Linked DNA regions of Homo sapiens. The protein of the gene in region 6 purifies or fractionates together with the protein of the main gene of each other region. This does not show direct contact. Each region holds a gene or a part of one and is shown on either strand. Other genes may lie near its edges.

Region 1 (3,016 bases), on a different chromosome or scaffold from region 6:
GTAAGTAAAGGGGTCATCAAGCTTGTACATGATTAAGAACAAGTTTGCACTGGAATGTTTGGTAAACTACAGTGTTTCTTTAAAATTACACCTACACTTCATTGGATGGCTAAAAACGATTAGAAAAGAATGATGATGAGTAATTTGGTTAAGAAAGCTTGGTCCAGGGTGGGGACTGTACAAGTCAGGATTAATCTCAACTGGGCTACTGTACCCCTGTGCTTATCTCCAAGAATACCAGGATCCATGGTGCTGATGTTTAGCCAAACCTGAATGAAGTATTAACTAGTGATGAATTCTGGGCCTGGGCTAGAGACTACGATAAACCAGGGGGCAACCTTGGGCTGGCTTGCCAGCATTGTTTAATAGAAAATGTAAAGATTGATTTTACATTTTTCACCTGGTTTCTGTCATGTTCCCTTGGTTTCTGCAGTTGAGCCTGGTCATGCTGGTCATGCAGCCCAATTTTGCCTACCTGACCAGAGAGGCATAAAAGACCTCTCCTTGAACAAGAATCAGGTTCTCCTGGGAGCTATGCCTAGAAGTTCTGGACCCCTCTAATGTTTCCCTGTGCCTGCTTTCTCCTTGCATACTGTGACCTCTACCTTTAATTAATGCCTGTTAGCCACAAGAATCCCAATTATATGACCCATATACCATCTCATTTTGAAAAAAATATGAGTTGTGGCTTTTGTTTTATTTATTCTCAGAGATGGCCATCTAGGACATGTATTCAGCCAACAATATTTGCTCAGCTTATACATCACAGAGTTGTGTTACAAAGCCATCATTCCTCTGTCCTTTGATGAATCCTCAAATTACTTTGTTCTAGAATAAACTTTTTTATATTACAAAAGAAATCTCATGAATTTACCTTCAGGTTCACGATACATACAAGAAATTAGCAAATCGCTAATAGAGAAGTTTTGGCTGTTGTGATTGGGTTCCAACATTGTAACTGTGACTTTTATTCCTGATGTTGACAATGTGGAATGAGATGTATTAACTTATAAATACTGTGTTGCTCAAGTGAGACTAAAAGCACAATCCATGCCACCTGCACCATAGCCCACTTTCAGCATAAAGAAACTCGAATGTATTCTTCAAGTAGTACACATCCTACATTGGAAGAATGTTGTTCTAAGATTTTATAGGTAACTGTTGCTCCTGTGAAATTTGACAGTGAGATTCCTTCTATTTTTAGTGTAATAGGAAATGGCACCAATAGTATGCCATAGTATATATTTTGGGGGACAAAAATACTATGCTCATTTCACCACTTTATTCCTCTTTATTTCATGCAATTTTAGGTAGATGTGTATACTAAAATCCAACAGTATCCCAAAGAAAGACTGTTAAGAATAACAAAAAAACTAGCATATTAATCTCTTTTCTTGGGAATATTGAATATATTTCTTGTTACTTGTATCTAAGTTCTGACTCTGATTTTTACAGGGGAAACAAGGCAAACACATTTTATATGGCTGCAGTGAGCTTTTTAATGCTACACAGTTCATAAAACAGGTAAAGTATACATTTGTTGTTTGTTTCTGTTAACATACCCCTAGTTGCTATTGGTATTTTTCAAAAGAGAGAAAGAAAACCACTTACTCACCTGAACCAGCCGAAACCAAAGCCATCCAGCTATACCAAGATAAGGTGTTTTCATGGACGACTAAGAAAACCTTGATAAGTAATAATGTTTCCAGTAGGAGTTTGCCCATCCTTCCAGAACTGAAAGCCTTTTCTTTGGCTTTTAATGATCCTTTAGAAATACAAAAATATATGAGAACTGTCAGTAGTGTGTCACTCATGACATTTCTCTTTATATTGTCACAAAGTTAGCACTAATTTTTTTAATTCCCAGGGTTTTTCTTTTCCATCAATTGAACGTTACCTAATAATGTTTACATTTCTTTACTATGACGACGTTTATTGCAATTCCATTTTCTTTTCTTTTTCTTGGTAGAGACAGTCTCTTGCTATGTTGCCAAGGCTGGTCTCAAACTCCTGGCCTCAAGTGATCCTCCCACCTCAGCCTCCCAAATAGCTAGGATTACAGGCATGAGCCACCATGACCAGCCTTCAGTTTTAACATTTGAGTTAGTGGTGAACATTAAGATTTATTATTCTAGGAATGCAGTGAATAAAATAGGAAGTGTAATTTATTAAGGGGTTTACAAATATGTTTGAATGTTTCTTTTATGATCTTTTTTAAAAGTTTTATGTATGATTTTGTGTTTTGTTTTAGTTGTCACAACTTGGACAAAAGTAACACAGAAGAACCTTACTATGATAATCTACTTGGAATGTGGATAAATGTAAAAAGAAGAAAAGTTAGAAGAGCAATATGTTTCCTTCTCTGTAACAGTGTCCTAACAGTGAAAATCAGAGTTATTTGTTAATTTTTAAGGAAATTATATACTTAATATGTATTGATTAAAAGAAACATTTCAGAAATAAAATTTCAACATTGTTCATTTTCTCTGATAAATCAGAAAGTACTAATATAATAACTAATAGGTTATGATTGAAGCTGGTGACATTTTAAGGTTATCATATTTAAATTTTATTTGATTGGTTCGTGAGTCCCCTACTTGTATGCATTTTAATTATACAACTACTTTCTCATAGTTTGTTGGGTATCCATGTTGCCTATAGATTTTAGATGGAGATTTTAAGCCACTTTAAGTTCCCTTCTTCTGGCACACCTATGTATATTTTATCACATAAAGTCCCTCCTTCATGTAATGGTGATCAAGGCAACACTAACATGATTTGGAATGGACAAATACAAAACAGTCATCTCATAAAGTTGTAAATAATACGTAAAAGTTAGTGTTAAACTTGATTCCAAGCTTCTTTGGTATGCAGTACTGACAAGAAGTATTGATCAGTCATACCGTTCAGTACGTCTGTAAGATAAAAAGCAAGCCAATTGCTTGAAAGGGAAGAAAAATAAACACTTCCTATTATAAAGGCCAGGGAGCCTTCCCTCCTAATGAGCCTCATATCA
Region 2 (3,500 bases), on a different chromosome or scaffold from region 6:
TTTTGTTTTTTGAGACAGAGTCTTGCTCTGTTGCCCAGGCTGGAGTGCAGTGGCAGGATCTCAGCTCAATGCAACCTCCACCTCCAGAGGTCAAGTAATTATTGTGCCTCAGCCTCCTGTAGCTGGGATTACAGGCACCCACCATCATGCCCGGCTAATTTTTTTTTTTTTTTTTTTTTGAGGCAGAGTCTCGCTCTGTCACCCAGGCTGGAGTGCAGTGGTGCGATCTCGGCTCACTGCAAGCTCTGCCTCCCAGGTTCACACCATTCTCCTGCCTCAGTCCCCTGAGTAGCTGGGACTACAGGTGCCTGCCACCATGCACGGCTAATTTTTTTTTTTTTTTGTATTTTTAGTAGAGGCGGGATTTCACTATGTTAGCCAGGATGGTCTCGATCTCCTGACCTCGTGATCCGCTCACTTTGGCCTCCCAAAGTGCTGGGATTATGGACGTGAGCCACCGTGCCCGGCCATGCCCAGCTAATTTTTGTATTTTTGTAGAGATGGGGTTTCACCATGTTGGCCAGGCTGATCTTGAACTCTTGACCTCAGGTGATCCGCCCGCCTCTACCTCCCAAAGTGCAAGGATTACAGGAACGAGCCATCATGCTCAGCCTCACACCTGGCTAATTTTTGTATTTTTAGTAGAGATGCGGTTTTACCATGTTGGCCAGGCTGGTCAACGACTGCATTCTTATAATATTAAGTTGATGAGCCTGGCACAGTGGCTCACACCTATAATCCTAGGACTTTAGGGGGCCTAGAACTTTGGGAACACCTGAGGTCAGGAGTTCGAGACCAGCCTGACCAACATGGAGAAACCCCATGTCTACTAAAAATACAAAATTAGCCAGGTGTGGTGGTACATGCCTGTAATCCCAGCTACTTGGGAGGCTGAAGCAGGAGAATCTCTTGAACCCGGGAGGCGGAGGCTGTGGTGAGCCGAGATTGCACCATTGCACTGCAGCCTGGGCAACAAGAGTGAAACTCCATCTCAAAAAAAAAAAAAAAGTTGATGATTGCAAAAAAGGTCTTTCCTCTGGGATGTTGCACCCATGCACCCACCCAGTAACTGTGTGTCTGTCCACCTCACCTGCCTGCCAGAGGGTGACCGGAAGGCTTTTTTTGAGAGCTCTCAGTGGAACATCAAGAAGAACCAGGAGACCATCAGTCAGCTCCGCAAGGAGACTAAGGCACTGGAACTAAAGCTGCTGGACCTGCTCAAGGTAAGGGGCAAAGGGGTGGGTGTAGGGTTCCCGTGGCGGTGGATGGTGGGGGACAAGTAGGTAGCACCTGGCCTTAGCTGGAGGTGGCATGCTGAAAGGTGACTGGACTTCCCTCCTTGCAGGGAGATGAGAAAGTGGTCCAGGCAGTGATTCGCGAATGGAAGTGGGAGAAGCCATACCTGAAGAACAGGACAGGACAGGTTTGCCCACCCTCGCCCCACCTCCTCCTTCATTTCCAGCCTGGGTCCCCTCACCACTGGACTCCAGGCTCACCCTCTCCAATCCTTCCTGCACACTAGCTGCCATTCATGTGCTCATTCAATTAAATCTTTATTACTCACTTTCCTTGTATCTGGCATCCTGGCATGGTAGTAAATGCAGTGAAAAAGCAGACCAAGTCTCCACTTCTAAAAACAGCTCATATCCTAATAGGGAAAACAAGTTAAAAAAAAAAACATCACAGCCAGGCGCGGTGGCCCACGTCTGTAATCACAGCACTTTGGGAGGCCAAGGCGGGCAGATGACCTGAAGTCGGGAGTTCAAGACCAACCTGACCAACATGGAGAAACCCTGTCTCTACTAAAAATACAAAACTTAGCTGGGCATGATGGCACGTGCCTGTAATCCCAGCTACTCGGGAGGCTGAGGCAGGAGAATCGCTTGAACCCGGGAGGCAGAGGTTGCAGTGAGCCGAGATTGTGCCATTACACTCCAGCCTGGGCAACAAGAGCGAAACTCCGTCTCAAAAAATAAATAAAATAAAAATAATTAAAAAAAATAAAACATTTTAAAAGTCATTGAACCCAAGAGGCAGAGGTTGTAGTAAGCTGAGGTTGTGCCACTGTGCTCCAGCCTGGGAGACAGAGTGAGACTCAGTCTCAAAACAAACAAACGAAAACAATGACCAGTGGCACATGCCTGTAATCCCAGCTATTCAGGAGGCTGAGGCTGGAGGATTGCATGAGCCTAGAAGTTTGAGACTATAATGAGCCACAATTGCACCACTGCACTCCAGCCTGAGTGACAGTACAACCTGTTTCTTTAAAAAAAAAAAAAAAAAAGGCTGGGCGCGGTGGCTCACGCCCGTAATCCCAGCACTTTGGGAAACCGAGGCGGGTGGATCACGAGGTCAGGAGATCGAGCCCATCCTGGCTAACACGGTGAAACCCCGTCTCTACTAAAAATACAAAAGGCCGGGCGCGGTGGCTCATGCCTGTAATCCCAGCACTTTGGGAGGCCGAGGTGGGTGGATCACAAGGTCAGGAGTTCTAGACCAGCCTGGCCAAGATGGTGAAACCCTGTTTTTACTAAAAATACAAAAATTAGCCAGGTGTGGTGGCAGGCACCTGTAATCCCAGCTACTCAGGAGGCTGAGGCACAGAATTGCTTGAACCCAAGAGGCAGAAGTTGCAGTGAGCTGAGATCGCACCACTGCACTCCAGTCTGGGCGACAGAGTGAGACTCTGTCTCAAAAATAAATACATAAATAAAAAATAAAATAAAAATAAAAATACAAAAAATTAGCCAGGCATGGTGGTGGGCGCCTGTAGTCCCAGCTACTCAGGAGTCTGAGGCAGGAGAACAGTTTGAACCCGGGAGGCGGAGCTTGCAGTGAGCTGAGACTGGTGCCACTGCACTCCAACCTGGGTGACAGAGCGAGACTCTGTCTCAAAAAAACAAAAACAAACAAACAAACAAAAACAAAAGATAAAAAATTAAAGGCCGGGCGCGGTGGCTCACGCCTGTAATCCCAGCACTTTGGGAGGCTGAGGCGGGCGGATCACCTGAGGTCGGGCGTTTGAGACCAGCCTGGCCAACATGGCGAAACCCCGTCTCTACTAAAAATACAAAAAATTAGCCGGGCATGGTGGTGCATGCTTGTAATCCCAGCTACTCAGGAGGCTGACGCAGGAGAATCCCTTGAACCCGGGAGGTGGAGGTTGCTGTGAGCCGAGATCATGCCATTGCACTCCAGCCTGGGCAACTCTGTCTCAAAATAAATAAATAAATAAATAAATAAATAAATAAATAAATAAAAAATAAAACACAGTCTAGGCATGGTGGCTCATGCCTTGTAATACCAGCACTTTGGGAGGCCAAGGCTGGAGGATCACTTGAGCCCAAGAGTTTGAGACCAGCCTGCCAACATAGTGAAACTTTGACTCTACAACAAATACAGAAGATTTGCCAAATGTGGTGGCACAGGATTGTAGTCCCAGCTACTTGCCAGGCTGAGGTGGGAGGATCACCTGAACTGGGGAGGTCGAGGCTGCAGTG
Region 3 (3,500 bases), on a different chromosome or scaffold from region 6:
CTCCTGTCTATATATTCTTCAAGATCAGTCTCAAATATTACATCATGTGTGAAACCTTATAACTATGAGACATAATCTGTCTTTCTATAGAGTAACATGTTTTTAGTAATGGCACTGGACTTAACTCTACCTGGTATTTGTGAAATTCATTTATATTTCTGTTTGGAATGGAACTGTATCCTATTTGTGGTTTTATTCCCTGAAGCATTTATTGTAGTTAACACTAAAAAAGCATTTCTCCAAGGAAACTGGGCAGTAGTGCAAAGACTTTCTTGAGATTCAGGTCTTTTTGTTGCTTTGCAGGAAAAACATTAGACTTTTCTATTTCCTCCCTGTCCCCACCCCTTGGCTTCTGCTCTGTAACCACTTTCATCAGCATTGAGGTTGCTCTTCTCAAAGTTAGACTGCTATTCTCCTCTTCTTCATATTGCCTGATTTAGACATTTCTTCCCTATCATTTTGCTTGTTTCTTTTTTTTTTCTGTCTGTATTACTTTAAAAAATTTTTTAGAGCCAGGGACTCACTCTGTTGCCCAGGCTGCAGTGCAGTGGCACAATCATAGCTCACTGTAACCTGGAACTCCTGGGCTCAAGCCATCTTCCAGTCTCAACCTGCCCAGTAGTGAGAACTACAGGCCTGTATTACCACACTGGGCTGGCTGGCTGGCTTATCTATTTATTTATTTATTGAGACATAGTCTCACTATGTTGCCCAGGTTTTTTTTCTTTTCTTTTTTCCCCCACTCTCTTTAAAATCTCCATTACCTGACCTTTTATGTTATTTCTTTGCAGACCTACGATCTGGAGCTTTATCTTAATCCCAAGTACCTGGTGCCCGAATGAGATAGGATGGAATGGGGTGGGCTACTGATAGAGGAATGGGTATTTGTTGGAACCTCTTTCCAAGACTTTCCCCCTTTTGTACAGATTTTTTGCCCTAATCACTTTAAGTGAGAATAGGGTAGATTAAGCAAAACTTACTTGATTTTAGTCCATAGGTTAATTTCTTTCAGCTGAAATTTTCATTTTTAATTCTCTCTGGATTTTGGCTCAGGATTAAACCTTTCAGACGAATAGAATTTAATATAATTGTTTATCATTTACCATTTTCATATATTTTTCTTGGACTCATGTGAGGTGACTTTGGAAACCTTCTTATACAGGTGGAAAGTCATAATTTATTTGAGTTCAGTTGAGAATCTGATTATCTGGACCTGCATTTTTTCTTCATACCATAAGTGACAGTGAGATTGATGCAAGTGATGCTGTTTGAAAAACTAAGAAAAATATCTAACAAGAAGTCTAAACTCTTGGTTTTGGAGGATTTTAGCCCCAAGTGGTAGAGAGGCAAAGAGCTCAGAGTGTCATCTTTTTGCATTTCTCTAGGTTTTTAATTTTTCTATGCCTCTGTTTACTAATCTGTAAAATGAGAATAATAATACTACCTATCTCATAGGGTTATTTTGAAGATTAAGTGAATTAACACTATGTAAAACACTTAGAACACTGTCTGGCACATAGTAAATTCTCAATAAATGTTGTATATAATTATTATTTATGAATTGAGCATTCTTAACATCCTTGATTCTTCCTCCTAAAAATTCTTTCCCTTAAGGTTAAATGATAGTGAAATTGAACGACAACATTTTAAGGACCAAGATATGTATTCTGATAAATCTGATAAAGAAAATGATCAAGAACATGATGAGTCTGATAATGAGGTGATGGGGAAAAGTGAAGAAAGTGACACAGATACATCAGAAAGACAAGATGACTCATATATCGAACCTGAGCCTGTTGAGCCTTTAAAGGAGACTACCTACACTGAACAGAGCCATGAAGAACTTGGAGAGGTAAAAGTCTGCTATTTTTAGAGGTTCTGGATTTTCATATTCTTGGGAATTCTTAAATGAAATTGAAGATATTATTTGCTTGATCTATTGCCTATTTTTCTGTGATAGAATGTGATATTTTAAAAATTGCATACATATGAAATATATTGGGATTTACAAACAACTAAACACATATACTCACATAAATACCAATATATTCTATTAAATTTAAAGTTTACATTTTCTTCAAGCTTGATTTTGAAGTAGGATATTGCTTGATGTCATTGCCAGGTGCAAAGTTGCAAGGAAACGTGAGTTTATAACTTTGTTATTGCCAGTGCATCATAGAAGTAAATGTAGTATAAAATAATAGGCTATAATATTTTTGTAGTGGATCTCTTGTATATATTGTTCACTTTGATGTCTTTTTCAGCTACCCTTTTTTACCTAAGTTTTATAGCTATAGATTTTATTATTATTTTTTGTTTCCACATTTAAAGAATGCTTGGAGTAGTCCTGAGAAGAGTTCATATTTTCAACATTAGCTGGCTTGTTTACATATCTGTCTGAAATAAATATAATGTTTTGGTAATTTTCATTAATTGATAAAGGCAGGTGAGGCTTCTCAAACAGAAACTGTATCTGAAGAAAACAAAAGCCTTATCTGGACACTATTGAAACAAGTCCGTCCTGGCATGGACCTATCCAAGGTGGTTCTGCCTACATTTATTTTGGAACCCCGTTCTTTCCTGGATAAACTTTCAGATTACTACTATCATGCAGATTTCCTATCTGAGTAAGTAGATTCTTATTTCTTAAAATAGACAATACTTCATGATTTTAGAAATTCTCAAGAATGCTATTTTCAATTATCGTTTGTTTCCAAAATCAGGCTCTAATGAGACATCACTCTCTGTTCTCTACCACTTCTGTGGTTGACCCTTAGTAAGAAGCATGTTTGATACTTTGCTATAATGTTGCCATTTATGAAGTTAAATTGAGATATCATAAGCTCGAGGAAAACAAGAATTCTACCCTTTACTCAACAACACTGCCGTTATAGGCTCCTTAACCTCAGTTCACTAACCTAACAGAGAGAGAGAGGTGATTGGCATCATTTGTTCTCCTCTACAAAAACACTTGTTCAGTCCCATCCTGGGGCATCTGTGTTTGCTCATACTTGTCTGTCTGCATGCTTGTGAGGTATGTACGGCTTACCAGAACTAGAATGCCCTGCCAGTTGCTAGCTTTTGGAACAAATCCTTATTTTCTTTGCTTTTCTGAAGCCGCCAGCTGATCCTGGGTGTAATTTTGAAGAAGGCACACCTAAAGGAGGCAGAGGAGGTGCTATCCACCTCTGTCCCAGCAATTTCTTGGAAAACCAGTAAACTTTGCAAGGAACAGCAACTTTGTGTCCATGCTTCCAATTCTTACCTGATGCCCCTATTCCAGCAATAATGGTGTTTCAAGGCACTGTGCTTTCTGTGCCACTGATATCTGGCCCTGCGACCTAATTTTTAGAATCTTTATCAAGACTTATTTTCGGTTTTTGTCTATAAATGGCATGAGCGAACATTGAAAAAAATAAGCTGAGTCAAAAAATAATTGGTAAACTGGGAAATTTTTGCAAATTTCATCGTAGACAAAATGTTAACCTCCCTAAAAAAAG
Region 4 (3,500 bases), on a different chromosome or scaffold from region 6:
ACATTTATGAGGGGATAGTTTGTAGGAGAAACTGTCCTGGGTATGTTATATACAATATTTAAATATAACAACTCTGACTTAGGTAGTATTAGCTCTTTTTTGAAATTGAGAAAACTGATGGTATTATAGAATCACTTGCTAAAGTATTTAATCGTTAGTTTTCCATTCAGTGAATACTCTATCTTAAGAATGATATCGTTAAATTTATTTTTCTCCCAGATGCCCAATATAATGATACACAGATAAATCTTTCACTCAGCCATATAGATTATATCAGGGAAATATTTATAGTCAGCTTTTGATTATACACACATCTTACAGATTGTCTGCCTGAATGCTTGACTCATTCTCTTTCACCTGAGTAAATAACATATCCTTCAAATTAGTTTGTCTCATATTTTCCAGTCTTCCTAGACTGTATTTAAGAGTACAAAGCATATAGTTAGCACTATACTATACAGTTGTGTCTACTTATATAGTAATTATCCTTAACGTCCAAAGTTAAGTTCTTGAAATCCAGGTAAAATTCGCATTTGAGGAATTTAAAATGGCAAAATGACATCAAGGAACCAAAGCCAGAAGTAAACCTAAAAACACCTTTATACTTTTATACTCACTGTAATGAAACAGAAATGACTGTACACTAAACTCATACCCTGTATTAGTCTGTTCTCACACTGCTGTAAAGAACTACCTGAGACTGGGTAATTTATGAAGGAAAGAGGTTTAATTGACTCACAGTTCCACAGGCTTAACAGGAAGCATGACTGGGAGGCCTCAGGAAACTTAAAATTTTGGCAGCAGGTGAAGGGGAAGCAAGCACCTTCTTCACATGATGGCAGGAGAGAGAGAGCAAAGTGGGAAGTGCCACACACTTTTAAACCATCAGATCTCATGAGAAGTCACTATCACGAGAACGGCAAGGGGGAAATCCACCCCCATGATCCAATCACCTCCCACCAGGGTCCTCCTCCAATTTGACATGAGATTTGGGTGGGGATACAAATCCAAACCATATCATAGTCCATCAGTGACATTTTATATAAATTAACATTTTGTTTTCTGCTGTATCTCAGTACCTATAACATTACCTGGCACATAGTAAATGCTCAATAATTATTTGTTCAACCAATGAATAATATGCATTTCACTTATCACTAGTTCAGTATTTGTGTTCTCTACAATTTCAGATCTTTATCTTGTGAATTGTTTTTGCTTTGATGCAAATAACTTTTTTTTTTTGCTTTTTGTTTAGTTCTTGAGATGTTTAAAATATTTCTGATTTTATGTTTAACAGATACGTTGGTGTCCTCTCTCTCTGATTATTCCTAGGGATTCCCTCTTATCAGCTACATTTACCTATCTCAGCTCTATCACTTGATCATCGTATGTTCTAAAGCCCAGGCGTACTTTTCTTATCTTTCTCTAGGCTTTATTGTAATATATCTCTGCTTTATCTGCATTTCCACTTTGCCTCCTTTTTCTCTTCTATACCTTTTTCTGCCCTATGACAGGACCATCTGCTTCCCCTTTCATAATTCATCTCAGTGGTAATTTCATGTTTAATTTCCTTCTTTCCTCTAAGAATGGAGGTTCTGTGAGGACAAGGATTACCCTCATCTTATTTCCCACTGTTGGTCCAGTGCATGAGGCACTACCTGATACACTGTCAGGCTCCTGGTAGATAGTAAGTCTTTGTTGAATGATTAATCTGTCTTTGATTCTCCCTGTTTTTTCCCTGTGTTTATATCACCAACAGCATTTACCACTCCTATATTGAGAGCAAATTCTTGAGAGAGCCAAAAAGGTTTTTGGAAGTAAAAAGGTTTTTAGATGTACTTGAATTTCAAATAAGGAGATGCTATATATTCTTTGAGGTGGTACATGCAGTGGTTTAAAAAACATAGTATTTTAGGATTTGAAGCCAACTTGCTGATTAAATTATATAGGCAAGCCTTTTAACCATGCTGAGCCTCTTTATTTATCTGAAGTGAAGATGATATTATTGCCTTGCCTACATCACAGGATTGTCAAAAAGATAAAATAAAATTAGATAAAATTGTGTATGAAACCTATAAAGTACCATATAAGTATTAGTCATTAGTTATACTTTCCTAATCTACGTTGAGTATTTGTATGTATTGTGTGTGTAGCTTTTCTTACTCTTTATTTGCATCAGTCATAGCCCCTAACATGGCGTTGAACCTTGGCTATTTCTTCTGCAGCTGCTTTATTTTTACTGCTCAGCAGATCCCTGGATTTGTTGGCTCCTCATGAGCTTTTGTGGATTTTTCTGCCGTGTTATAGATCGCATGTTGTGTCTACTCTCAGTTTCTGTATCATAGTCAGCTGGTAGTGATTCTACAGGTTAGAGTTGAAGTGCCTACTCATTCAGCCTTTGTCTAAAGAATCTTTGAACTCTGGCTTGAAAAGTCAGAGTAGGACAGTTCTTATGAACCGGTCCCTATTACTTTTTTAGTGCACATGGTTAATCAATCAGTAAGATTATATTGTGTTTCTTAGTTATTTCATTTTTGCTCTCTGATACAAAAAAGGATTAGAAAATGATAGTTTGACTTTCAGACTTTTAAGAACAGGCATCAAAGAAGGAGAACAAAGAGGTACCATGATCTCTGCTCTTTCTAGGAGGGTCTCTACCTTTATCCTATGTGTATAATTCCATTCTGAGCAGCTCGGAGGAACATATAAGTCACGGTGTTTTCATATTTTATTAAAAAGAAATAATAACATTTGTATGGAATCATATTGCTAAAGCATGCAAAAGAATTGTACCTTATTCATGAGTCACTTTTATGGGTTTCAATTTCAAAAAGACTGACTAGGTGCAGTGGCTCACGCCTGTAATCCCAGCACTTGGGAGGCTGAGACGGGTGGATCACTTGAGGCCAGGAGTTCGAGACTACCCTGGCCAACATGGTGAAACCCCGTCTGTACGAAAAATACAAAAATTTGCTTGGCATGGTGGTGCACACCTGTAATCCCAGCTACTTGGGTAACTGAAGCATGAGAATCACTTGAACCTGGGAGGCGGAGGTCGCAGTGAGCCAAGATTGTGCCACTGTACTGCACTTCAGCCTGGGTGACAGAGTAAGACTGTCTCAAAAAAAAAAAAAAAAAAAAAAAGAAAAGAAAAAAAGAAACTAAGAGCTAATTCATTCAACAAATATTTATTACACACTACTTGTGTGCCAGCCACTGTTCTATCCTCTGCCTATACAGTGTGAAAAATATTCCTGCCTTTGGAGAGCTTAGCAGGAAAGATTGGCACTAAACATAATTATGAGGTGCTACATTATGAAAGGGAAGTACAAGTTTCCATGGGTGGATTTTCAAGTCAGAGACAACAAGAGCAGAGGTGAGGCTGGGAGTAGCCAAAGGTGAGGCTGGAAAAGGGAGGGAAGGGCTGGAGCACAGAGGATCTGGAATACCATCTTGTGGATATTTGCCTTCTCTTATCTTTTAAAAAGTGTTTTAATTTC
Region 5 (3,500 bases), on a different chromosome or scaffold from region 6:
CATCCCCAAATGGATATCTGTAATGAAAGAATACAAAGGTGAAATTTTATTTAAAAATTTTTTAAAAGAATTTGGTTTTGGATTAAAAGGCATGCAAGCAGCATTAATTCCACTCACAGTTACAGTCTATCACCTGGGGCATTCACTACTTTTCAGAGTCAGATCACAGTTCAAAAGACAGCTCTCACCTTGGGGGCATATTCCCCAAGTCAGTGTGAACATGTCTTGTCCCAAGAGGACACTTTATACGCATGGATGTTCACAAATTTATTCTAAACTGCAGGTGTCTGTCAGGATTCATTTGTTAAACATGTCCTCTGTGTTAAAAATCCTAAAATCCTTTTGCATTTCTTAGAAAAAATCACGTTTCTGATGAAATTCTAAAGATGTTTGCAATATTAAACTAGAATATATTAACATGTATAATTTTGAGACAAGGTCTTGCTCTGTCACCCAGGCTGGAGTACAGTGGCTCGATCATAACTCACTGCCACCTCACGATCCTCTTGCCTCAGCCCTCCAAGTAGCTGGGACTACAGGCGTGTACCACCATGCCTGGCTAGTTTTATTTTTAGTACATAGCCTTGAACAACTGAGCTTAAGCGATCATCCTCCCTCAACCTTCCAAAGTGCTAGGACTGTAGGCATGAGCCACTGCACCTGGCCTAAAATTACATTGTTACAGGCACGTAAGTAACACTTCCTGGATCCAAAAATGTGTATTCTGCATTTCAACAACTGAACTTAAGCGATCATCCTCCCTCAACCTTCCAAAGTGCTAGGACTGTAGGCATGAGCCACTGCACCTGGCCTAAAATTACATTGTTACAGGCACGTAAGTAACACTTCCTGGATCCAAAAATGTGTATTCTGCATTTCAACAACTGAACTTAAGCGATCATCCTCCCTCAACCTTCCAAAGTGCTAGGACTGTAGGCATGAGCCACTGCACCTGGCCTAAAATTACATTGTTACAGGCACGTAAGTAACACTTCCTGGATCCAAAAATGTGTATTCTGCATTTCATATTAAAATAAAAAAGCAAGTGCTTGGGATACAAATATCTGCATGAAAATTTAAAGACTTTATTCCTGACTGGTATCACTTTTAGTAAGCAGTTGAACATAACTTGTAGTGTGAATATGGTTAAAACAAAGGACACCTGATGTCTGTGAAGTCTGCTAAGGACAGGTACAAAATTTATGCATTGCTTTTTAAAAAGTTTAAAATGAGGAATGCTTTTGATAATCAGAAAGACTAATGTAAAGTGCTGACTGATGTCCTGTCTGCAGTTAAGGAAGACACCCAACTCTCTTCTTCCTCATCATGGTATTCTCTATGTATAGATCTCTAAAAATGCAAACTTCCTATGGACAAGACAATATGATTTGCTATAATATGAATTAAGATATGGTAATATCTAATAGTCTCCACTGCTAGGATTCTGAGTAACACAAAAAATAGGTTTTATAAAAAGCCCATGCACTTCAATTGGTGGGGGAAAAGAATAAAGTCATTTTCAGTCGACTGACTCTGTAAAACAGATTACCAATATAACAAGCTATGTTATCTAAATTGCCCTGGCAGTCTTCAGTTTTCTCTAAGTAAACAAAGTAAAAGGAACAATAAGGATGCAGGCGTAGTAATAGCTGTGGAAAAGATGAAACTACAGCCACAGTGACCTGTGGGCAGCCTGCGTAGAGATAAGCTGAGGTGTCAGTCAGACTGATCCTGGTAACGATACTCCATGGCTGCATGAAGATGCTGGAGGCATCAAGTGGGTGGCCTTAACTCTAGTGGATTCACTAGGCAATGTAAATTGGTTAGTGGGTTCCCGTAAGTGCCTGTAACAATAAAATTTCTTTTTCAATGTCCCCAATTCAAACTGGCCTCCTTAACTATCCAGAATCAGTGATGCCTGTCATCTGTTCATCTTAAAATAAACACTTCTTACTTTATGGGATGTAAATATCAAAGAGAAGATGAAATGAAAAGCTTTTACATATATAACGTGTTTGTTAATTCTAATTGTCAGTAAAAATGTGAATGTTGAAGTTGAAATGTGAATGTTGAAGTTGGCACCTTTGTAGTAATCAGAATTCTTGCAGAGAAGAGAAAGAGAGTGAAGAGTATACTTTACAAAGCTCGAAGGAGACTTGAGGCTGTCGTTTGTGCTGGTGTTCCTCTAGCCACAGGGGCTGCTGACCGGATCCTGTCCACGTGGTCCAGCCACACCTCTTGCGGGGCTGTATGTGCTGCCTTGGTCTGGGCTGCCTGCGGCTTCAGACTTGAGCTGGGCCTTTTCCGCTGCGGGTGAACCTTCTGTATTCCCTGATGTGTCTTGGCCAGAGACAGGCTTGGCCGACTGGCTGCTTTCAGTACTGCTTTCTTTCGGTGTGCCTTCCCCCAGGATTCCACCTGTCTCCTTGGGCTTTGTATCCAAAACAGGTGATTTATGCTATAAAGTACAAAATTACATTTTAACTGTTTAATGTAATGTGAAGTCTTAGTAATCAAACATATCTAAAAAGTTCCCACCCAAATCCGTTGTAGCAAGCTCCAAACTCTTTCAAATCCAGGGTCCAGTGCTGGGTTATAATTATATAAATGTTATTATACCTCACCAAACTCCACAGTACTCCCACAGAGGAGTGGGAACGCTTAGCGCATATACTGGGTGGTCTAGTGGCCCAGCTTAGAAGGGGTCAAGAGAATTGGTCATCAGTATTGTCAACTTCTCTTGCCTGGTGAGAATAATTCATTTGACAAATATTTCTTGAGCATATATTAAGTTCTAGGTGTTAGGGATACAGCAGGAACAAAATACATAAAACTGTTCTCACTGGAACTTATATTTAGGTTAGAAGAAAATCACACAAGTGTGATATGTTGAATTAAAGAGGCTATGTAAAAAAAGCAGAGAAGAGATGAGTGCTGAATGTGGGTGGGCTGGCAGGGTCAAATTACAGTTTAAATTAGGGTGGTCTGAAAAAGTGATATGGTTAGGCATGGTGGCTCACACCTGTAATCCCATAACTTTGGGAGGCCAAGGTGAGAAGACTGCTTGAGGCCAGGAGTTTGAGACCAGCCTGGGTAACAGCAAGACCCCATATCCACAAAAAATAAAAAATATTAGCCAGGCATGGTCGTATATGCCTATAGTCCTAGTTACTCAGAAGGCTGAGGCAAAAGAATCGGTTGAGCCCAGGATTTTGAGGCTGCAATGAGCTATGATCACTGCACCCCAGCCTTGACCACAGAGTGAGACCTTGTCTCCAAAAATAATAAAAATGAGTAAAGGCCTGAAGAAAGTAACCATATGATTGATATATAAATGAAGACTGTAGAATGAACAGCAGGTACAAAGGCTCTCAAGTTCAAGGAACAGTCAGGAGCCCTTATGGCTAAAGTAGAGTAAGCACGGAGGGAGAAGAGGTGACCAGAGAGGTAGTGGATGTGGGGGAAGGGGAGACCAAGGAGGCTTCCAGGCCATTGTAATA
Region 6 (3,500 bases):
CTCCTCACTCTGTCCTCCTCTTCCCATGCACCAGATCTCTTCACCTTTTCTATTTTTCTTTCTCTTCCTCCCTGCTTCAATATAATAATTGTAATATTTACCACAGATAGTTTTCCTTTTATCTACTCTGAAATTCCTCCAAATTCCATTAACAATTTTGAATTTAGGAAACAAAAGCAGAAAATTAAGAGCCAAGCTGTTTTTGCTTTTTGCCTGCTACAATCCGTCCTCAGGGAAAAGAACATAGCTACATATCTCAAAATGGAGCTTATATCTCAGGATATTATTCTAGCATAGGAGTTTTGAGAAAATTGATCAAGATTTGGAATAGTCATCAAGGGGAATTAGAGCAGAACTAAATAAGGACAAGGAAAATGATTTGACAGTTTTGATGAGAGGTTGGAATGCTGCCAGTCCTTGGGGTTGGGATAAGAATTTATCAAAGTATACTTCTGTTAGCACCTTTCTCCATAATCACGAATTGTAAATTAGCTACATCCACATTAATGGTTTTATATTTTAGTTAAAAGTTTATTTACATATTTCATTGTCAATGAAATATTTTGGCAGTATGTTTTCTTTTTCATTATTAAAATAACCTGCCTCGTTACTGTGAGGTTTGACTTTAAATTAGATGTGCTTCTCTAATTCTTCCGTTGGCTTCTTTCTCCTGATTGCTGGATTTTCCTGCTTCAGTCATGTGTGGGGTATTTCTTTGTGGTTTATAAAATGGTAGCTCTATTGCCTGCATCAATTGTAGATTAAAAAAAATTAGTCCACTGCAAATGCAAAGTAGCCATGCTAGTTATAGCAAAATGATAACTGTACAATTAAAAATGGTTTAAATGTTTTACTTTCTTCCATTTATCACTCAGAATGCATGAGAAAATTTACTGATAAAATTAGACTTAAGGATGTGTGTTTTTTGGAGGAAAATGTTTGATAGTAAATACCATATTTAGCCATGTGATTTCTATATAGTATGTTTTCCTTTAAAATTTTGAAAGACCCTTCCTGGCCAGGGCTGGTGGCTAATGCCTGTAATCCCAGCACTTTGGGAAGCCAAGGTGTGCAGATCACTTGAGCCCAGGAGTTCAGGACTAGCTTGGGCAACACGGTGATACCCTGTCTCCACAAAAAATACAAAAATTAGCCGAGCACGGTGGCAAGCCTGTGGTCCCAGCTACATGGGATACTGAGGTGTGGGAGGATCACCTGAACCCAGGAGGTTGAGGCTGCAGTGAGCTGTGATTGTGTCACTGAACTCCAGCCTGGGTGACAGAGTAAGACCTTGTCTCAAAAAAATAAAAGACCCTTCCTGTTTTTGAATTTTTTGATTCCTTAAAAAGTCACTTATAATAATTAAGAGACTAAGCATTACAAGTGAGGCTGAAATTTTCTAATGTTCCAACTTGTAACTTAAACGAATAGAGTATATCTTAGGAAATTACCTTTTTCTACCTTGGAAAATCCTGTACTTAGCAACATCAGAGATACATAGTTCTGATTGTGCAACAGAATGAAGCAATTAGCTGAGGAGGTTACTCATCAACCTTTGGACTGAATCTCATGAGGTTTCTTTTGTTCCTGTGTCAGGTATGTCTTTTACCTCCTGAGAGATGGCATTTATAGAGCAGACCTTCCTGTACCATCTGGCCGGTGTGCAGAAGCTGTGCGTATTGTGGAGAGTTGCACGTTAAAGGACTTTGCAATCAAGCCACAAGCCAAGCGAATCATTTACTTCAATGACACTGCCCAAGTCTTCATGTCAACATTTCTGGATGGCTCTGCTTCCCATCTCATCCTACCTCGCATCCCCTTTGCTGATGTGAAAAGTTTTGCTTGTGAAAACAATGACTTTCTTGTCACAGATGGCAAGGTCATTTTCCAACAGGATGCTTTGTCTTTTAATGAATTCATCGTGGGATGTGACCTGAGTCACATAGAAGAATTTGGGTTTGGTAACTTGGTCATCTTTGGCTCATCCTCCCAGCTGCACCCTCTGCCAGGCCGCCCGCAGGAGCTTTCGGTGCTGTTTGGCTCTCACCAGGCTCTTGTTCAATGGAAGCCTCCTGCCCTTGCCATAGGAGCCAGTGAGTGCTCTGTCCCCAGTGTGGTTACTGGCCTTGCTGGAATAAGAGGAAGGTTTGAACTGCTTGGCGTTGTGATTCAATTTTGAGAGCCCCATTTGGCTATTCAGTCATCAACCAGAAGCAGCTACTTAGCTAAAAAAAAAGTTTATACATTTGTTCTGCATTTATTAGTTTTACATTAGGAGAATCTCTATACTTCTCATGTATATCCCAATAGAATAATTTGAACATTTATTGAGTGTCTGCTAAGATCCAGGCATTGACATTCTAGTCAGAACAAATAGCCAGGGAGATAGAATACTTGGGTTGAGATTTTTTGTGCTGTTGAAAGCTTGCATGAATTTCAGCAATTCCCTAAAACTCTGAACTCGAATCTCCATCTCTGGAGAGAGGTAGTATGTGGGTGGGTAAGCAGGTGGGCTCTGGAGTCAGCCTGCACGGATTCAAATACTTGCCATTTGTTAATAGAATGACCCTGGGCAAGTTACTAAACCACTCTGTGTCTCAGTTTCCACACCTGGAAATGGGGAATATTTATTATATCTTTTAATGGAACTGTTGTACAGATAAAATTAAAACACATTAGTAGAGCACTTAGAACAGTATCTAGCACAGAGGTCAGCAAACTTTTTCTGTAAAGGAAAGACCAGATAGTAAATATTTTTATTTACTTTGTGGGTCAGATGGTCCCTGTCAGCTACTCAATTATGTCGTTGTAGTGTGAAGACAGTCATAGATAATATGTAAATGAATAACTGTGGCTGTGTTCCATTACAACTTTATTTACAGAAACAGTGGGCCAGGTTTGGCCTGTGAGTGGAGTTTGCCAATCCCTGATCCCCTAGACGATAGTAAGTATTTAGAAAACATTGGCTGTTTTTGCTTTAGAACAAAGTTAATTATGTCTGTTTGCTGCATATCTCAAAGATGGCTGAAAATGAATAGGTAATTTTTTTTTATTGATTGGGCTTCTTGGAGGAAGGTACTATACAAACAGTGGTAATTACATTAAAGGTTCATCATTAAGCATTTTTTATTAAGAGCCTGATTATATCTATTAGTGTTGTAGAGAACCCCTCTGACAATTATATGCAGCAAGCATATAGCTTTGACTGAAGGACAGTCCTATTTGTTGGGAATGCTGTCTCCTTCAATGCAGCCAAATGAGCGGCATGAGGAATGAACACTGTCCTAGCCTCATCAACAAATGATCCCTGGTGATTATCGGGGTAGCGGATATTACTGCCCAATTGCTCTCCCATTTGAGATGAGGCTGTAGGTGAATTTATGGAGAATCCTTGGTTTGCCCTTGCAGATGTCATCCTGATCAGTGATATTATTGAACTCTTTGAATTAGGCCCTTCTGCCTGGCAGAACTGGACCTATGAGGTGAAAGTATCCACCCAA
Region 7 (3,500 bases), on a different chromosome or scaffold from region 6:
ATAATGTAAAAATCAAACTCTTTGGTATTATTTTTATTGAGTTTTAAAAAGAAAAAGTAAAAGATGTTTCTCTTCTTACAAAAACCAATAGGCCCCAGTGAAATATCATGGAGACAGATCAAAGGAGAGTTTAGTGAGTTTTGCAATGCAGCATGTTAGAAGTACAGTGACAGAACTTTGGACAGGTAATTTTATTTTCTTAATTTGCTTGATTTTCAGGGTATTTTGAAATCAGTATTTTGTTTTTAATGGCAATATTAACATTTTGGTCATGGTATTGAAATTTTAAAGTGTCTTTTCCATGTTTCTTAGAAGGGAATTGTGTCATTTACTCTGAACTCTGCTGAATTTAACAAACTAGTTAAATTTTTACAGAAACTTGAACTATCGAGATATGGGAAATGGATATGAGATAGGGCTACGGTAAAAAAGGCATCTCTCAAAGTGCAAAAAATGTTTTGTAATACAAGTGTTTTATTGCTTTTTTAAATATGCTTATCAATCAGTAAATTCAAACCTATTCTGTTTAATTTTAAAGTTTAAAAATGCTTCTAATCTTAGGCTTTTAACTCATTAACTGCCTTTAGGCAGATTAAGCTAATAATAGTATTTGTGGCTCAAGATGTTCATTTTATTCATTGAGTAAAGTTACGTGTCAGAAACTATTAAATAGTGGGGCTGCAGTAATAAAATATATAGTCCCTGCCATCAGTGACTTCATTAGTGAGGAAAACATTAGTAAACAATTAAAATGCAATATAGGTACTATTATTATAGAGCTTAAGGGAGCATAAGATGTGTAAAACAACCCAGTTGGGGAAAAGAGAAAGAGTTAGAAAATACTTCTTGAAAGAAGTCATATCCAATCTGTCATGAAAATGAATAGGAAGCCTTAGGAGATCACTGTGTATTTGGGGAACTGGCAATACTTCATGAATCTGACAAAAAGATCAATAATTGGGTCAAGTGGTGTGGGGAAATATAATATAGCTGGCTAAATAGGTAGGCAAAGCTCAAGTCACAGGGGCCTAACTTGCCAATTTGAGTTTTTTTCTTAATGAAATAATGAATTTAGGTTTTATATGATGAAAAAATTGGAGAGCCATTGAAGGAATTTGTCATACTCAAGAGTATCTTTGGAAAGATAACTGGTAAAACTCAGAGTGGATTAGAAGAGGGTGAGATTAGAAAGGAAAAATTACTTAGAAGACTGTTTCCATTAGTAAAGGAGTAATAGGTGATCAGAATTTGCTTTTTTTCTTTTATTTTTAAGGAAATTTTGTCAACTCCATACAAACTGCTTTTGCTGCTGGTATTGGCTGGCTGATCACTTTTTGTTCAAAAGGAGGAGGTAATACTATTTTTTAATTTTGTTGGAATGAGAACATGACATTTAAATTTTTGGTGACAGTTTTAAGTATGCTACTGTAATTGATTATTAAGTACTAGAAACTACAATTTATGCCCAGGATTACAATTTTTTTACTTAATGAATATTCGCCTTTTTCATTATTTTACACATGAGGTTATTATTCATTTTTTAATGTATCCTCTATGTTTTTATGTTCAGTGGACCAGTTTTTCAGCTTAGACTCATGATAAATTGTACCTTCAGATAGCCACAGATGTTATTTGACAATTTGCAAAAATAACTAGTTGTTTACAGCTCTAACCCCTCCCAAAATAATAATTTTTTGGAAATATGGACTTTGCTTCATGCTTATATATATCTCTCAAACATACATAGATTTGCCTCATACAATTATATACTTGAAGATGACAGCTTCTTCTAGGAACCTTTCCTTGAATAAATTAAGTTGAAAATTCAGTACTCTGCATAGCAAGCCGTAAACTGTAAACTGTGTTCAAGCAATGTGGTTGGTTAAAAATTGTTCTAAGACAACAAAATATTATAACTCAATGTATTTGCATGTATTTAATCCCAACATGAGTCTTCTCCCCACATTTCATCTCTCAGCCTTCATGCTGCTATATTGAAAAGGTACTGCCTTGTAACTAAAATCAACCCATTACCCCATCCTGTAAGGCCTATGCTAGAAAGACACTGCCTTGCAGCAAAACGTCAGCCTTAAACTTAACTAATCACCAAGGGATTTTGTCTCATTTTGGCCTATTGCCCAAATTTCTGTTCATCCACACATGAACAAAAGTTCTTACATTCTCTGAGATTCTTTTACTTCTCACCTCAAGTAAATTGCTTCTCCCTGTCTTTGTAGGCTCTGTGATGCTATAGCTCTCTTTCTTCTAAATCTTCTCTCATTGTATTCTAGTGTTCATATTTGCAGAACTTTCATAAAAATAGTGAAGGCACTATTTAAAGATTTTATTGTATTTTGAGGATCCTTTATATACTTCTATCAAATATCTATTACATTTTATTTCCCCCCAATTTTGAGATCTCTTGGATAAAATGGATTGTTGATAGGAGGAGAGATTGAGAGTATTAACCTAAAGAGAGAAAATTACTTTTTCTCTGTAGCTAGACATCCTAGAAATTAAAGGGAGAGAATGAAAGAAAGAGGGAGCGAGGGAGTGTGTGTGTGTTTTTGTGTGTGTGTTTGTATGTGTGTGTGTGTAGAAGGATTTCCATATCTATCAATAGAGTCCAGCTCAATTAATTGCCTTCGAATGAACATGGTAATTTGGGGGAAAGGCAAATGCAAGTATTTTCATCAGGCTTAATAAAGGTAAAACTGCCTCATAAGGTTTTTTTGTCCCCAGATTGTTTGACTTCACAGACACGACTCAGGCTTAGTGGCATGTTGGTAAGCATCAATCATTTTGTAAAACTATATCACCATGTAAAGAAACACATTTAGAAATTGATTTGAAACATTTTCTTCCCTTATTTCTTGAACATTTAACTCACCTATTTGTAATCTTATTTTCTGATGACTGTATTCATAGCTATGTGTTTTTTCCTGAATAATTAGTTACGTTCAATAAATTTTAACGTGGTATCAATTCTAAGTGTCATTTACTTTGTAAGTATTCTGTAATTTATAAGTTCCTCTTCAACTGAAGTTACATGTTAGTGTTTTTGTCATTTCCCAACTTTATCTTTTGTTGTTTTCTTTTTTAGTCATTTTTAAATGTATATAGCTCTCATGTTATGGCTGGGAAGTAGCCTGAGTGATGTTGATTTTTTAACACCATTGAAATACCCTTTGTGGCTTTGTGGCTTGACAAAGCCACACAAATTGTCAGTTTTGAAAATTTTGGAAATTCTTTGTGAGCTTGAATATAATAATGTTATGTTAGGTGTAATATATGTTAGGTGTAGTATTACATTTATTAGATCAGATTTATTAATCATGTTATTTGTTTTTGGACTACATGATCTATAATTTCTAAGAGGGATGTATTAAAATCTCTACCATCCATCATTGATTTATCTATTTCTTATATTTCTGTCAGTTCTTCCTTTACATATTTTGACATTATATTGTTGGCAGCAGTATGATCATTATATCCTTTGG

What was found.
Region 1: the proteins of ROS1 (region 6) and SCFD1 purify together in Homo sapiens (affinity purification with mass spectrometry; one large-scale study listed by BioGRID and IntAct). This does not show direct contact.
Region 2: the proteins of ROS1 (region 6) and ODAD3 purify together in Homo sapiens (affinity purification with mass spectrometry; one large-scale study listed by BioGRID and IntAct). This does not show direct contact.
Region 3: the proteins of ROS1 (region 6) and OSBPL8 purify together in Homo sapiens (affinity purification with mass spectrometry; one large-scale study listed by BioGRID and IntAct). This does not show direct contact.
Region 4: the proteins of ROS1 (region 6) and COPB2 purify together in Homo sapiens (affinity purification with mass spectrometry; one large-scale study listed by BioGRID and IntAct). This does not show direct contact.
Region 5: the proteins of ROS1 (region 6) and CLCC1 purify together in Homo sapiens (affinity purification with mass spectrometry; one large-scale study listed by BioGRID and IntAct). This does not show direct contact.
Region 7: the proteins of ROS1 (region 6) and DNAJC10 purify together in Homo sapiens (affinity purification with mass spectrometry; one large-scale study listed by BioGRID and IntAct). This does not show direct contact.

What each region holds. Positions count from the first base shown.
Region 1 is NC_000014.9:30,733,335-30,736,350, forward strand, and holds the end of SCFD1 (sec1 family domain-containing protein 1), read left to right. Parts: intron 1-1,455; coding exon 1,456-1,524; intron 1,525-2,251; coding exon 2,252-2,275; 3' UTR 2,276-2,516; downstream 2,517-3,016. UniProt on the Homo sapiens protein: Plays a role in SNARE-pin assembly and Golgi-to-ER retrograde transport via its interaction with COG4. Involved in vesicular transport between the endoplasmic reticulum and the Golgi.
Region 2 is NC_000019.10:11,428,622-11,432,121, reverse strand, and holds part of ODAD3 (outer dynein arm-docking complex subunit 3), read left to right. Parts: intron 1-1,101; coding exon 1,102-1,223; intron 1,224-1,345; coding exon 1,346-1,423; intron 1,424-3,500. UniProt on the Homo sapiens protein: Component of the outer dynein arm-docking complex (ODA-DC) that mediates outer dynein arms (ODA) binding onto the doublet microtubule. Involved in mediating assembly of both ODAs and their axonemal docking complex onto ciliary microtubules.
Region 3 is NC_000012.12:76,388,772-76,392,271, reverse strand, and holds part of OSBPL8 (oxysterol-binding protein-related protein 8), read left to right. Parts: intron 1-1,614; coding exon 1,615-1,852; intron 1,853-2,442; coding exon 2,443-2,627; intron 2,628-3,500. UniProt on the Homo sapiens protein: Lipid transporter involved in lipid countertransport between the endoplasmic reticulum and the plasma membrane: specifically exchanges phosphatidylserine with phosphatidylinositol 4-phosphate (PI4P), delivering phosphatidylserine to the plasma membrane in exchange for PI4P, which is degraded by the SAC1/SACM1L phosphatase in the endoplasmic reticulum.
Region 4 is NC_000003.12:139,379,648-139,383,147, reverse strand, and holds part of COPB2 (coatomer subunit beta'), read left to right. Parts: intron 1-3,500. UniProt on the Homo sapiens protein: The coatomer is a cytosolic protein complex that binds to dilysine motifs and reversibly associates with Golgi non-clathrin-coated vesicles, which further mediate biosynthetic protein transport from the ER, via the Golgi up to the trans Golgi network.
Region 5 is NC_000001.11:108,932,485-108,935,984, forward strand, and holds part of CLCC1 (chloride channel CLIC-like protein 1 isoform 1 precursor), read right to left. Parts: intron 2,459-3,500; coding exon 2,186-2,458; 3' UTR 2,141-2,185; exon of another isoform or gene 2,136-2,140; intron 2,062-2,135; exon of another isoform or gene 18-2,061; 3' UTR 1-17. UniProt on the Homo sapiens protein: Anion-selective channel with Ca(2+)-dependent and voltage-independent gating. Permeable to small monovalent anions with selectivity for bromide > chloride > nitrate > fluoride.
Region 6 is NC_000006.12:117,387,943-117,391,442, reverse strand, and holds part of ROS1 (proto-oncogene tyrosine-protein kinase ROS isoform 3 precursor), read left to right. Parts: intron 1-1,596; coding exon 1,597-2,093; intron 2,094-3,408; coding exon of another isoform or gene 3,409-3,450; coding exon 3,451-3,500. UniProt on the Homo sapiens protein: Receptor tyrosine kinase (RTK) that plays a role in epithelial cell differentiation and regionalization of the proximal epididymal epithelium. NELL2 is an endogenous ligand for ROS1.
Region 7 is NC_000002.12:182,729,757-182,733,256, forward strand, and holds part of DNAJC10 (dnaJ homolog subfamily C member 10 isoform 1 precursor), read left to right. Parts: intron 1-91; coding exon 92-185; intron 186-1,273; coding exon 1,274-1,351; intron 1,352-2,742; coding exon 2,743-2,786; intron 2,787-3,500. UniProt on the Homo sapiens protein: Endoplasmic reticulum disulfide reductase involved both in the correct folding of proteins and degradation of misfolded proteins.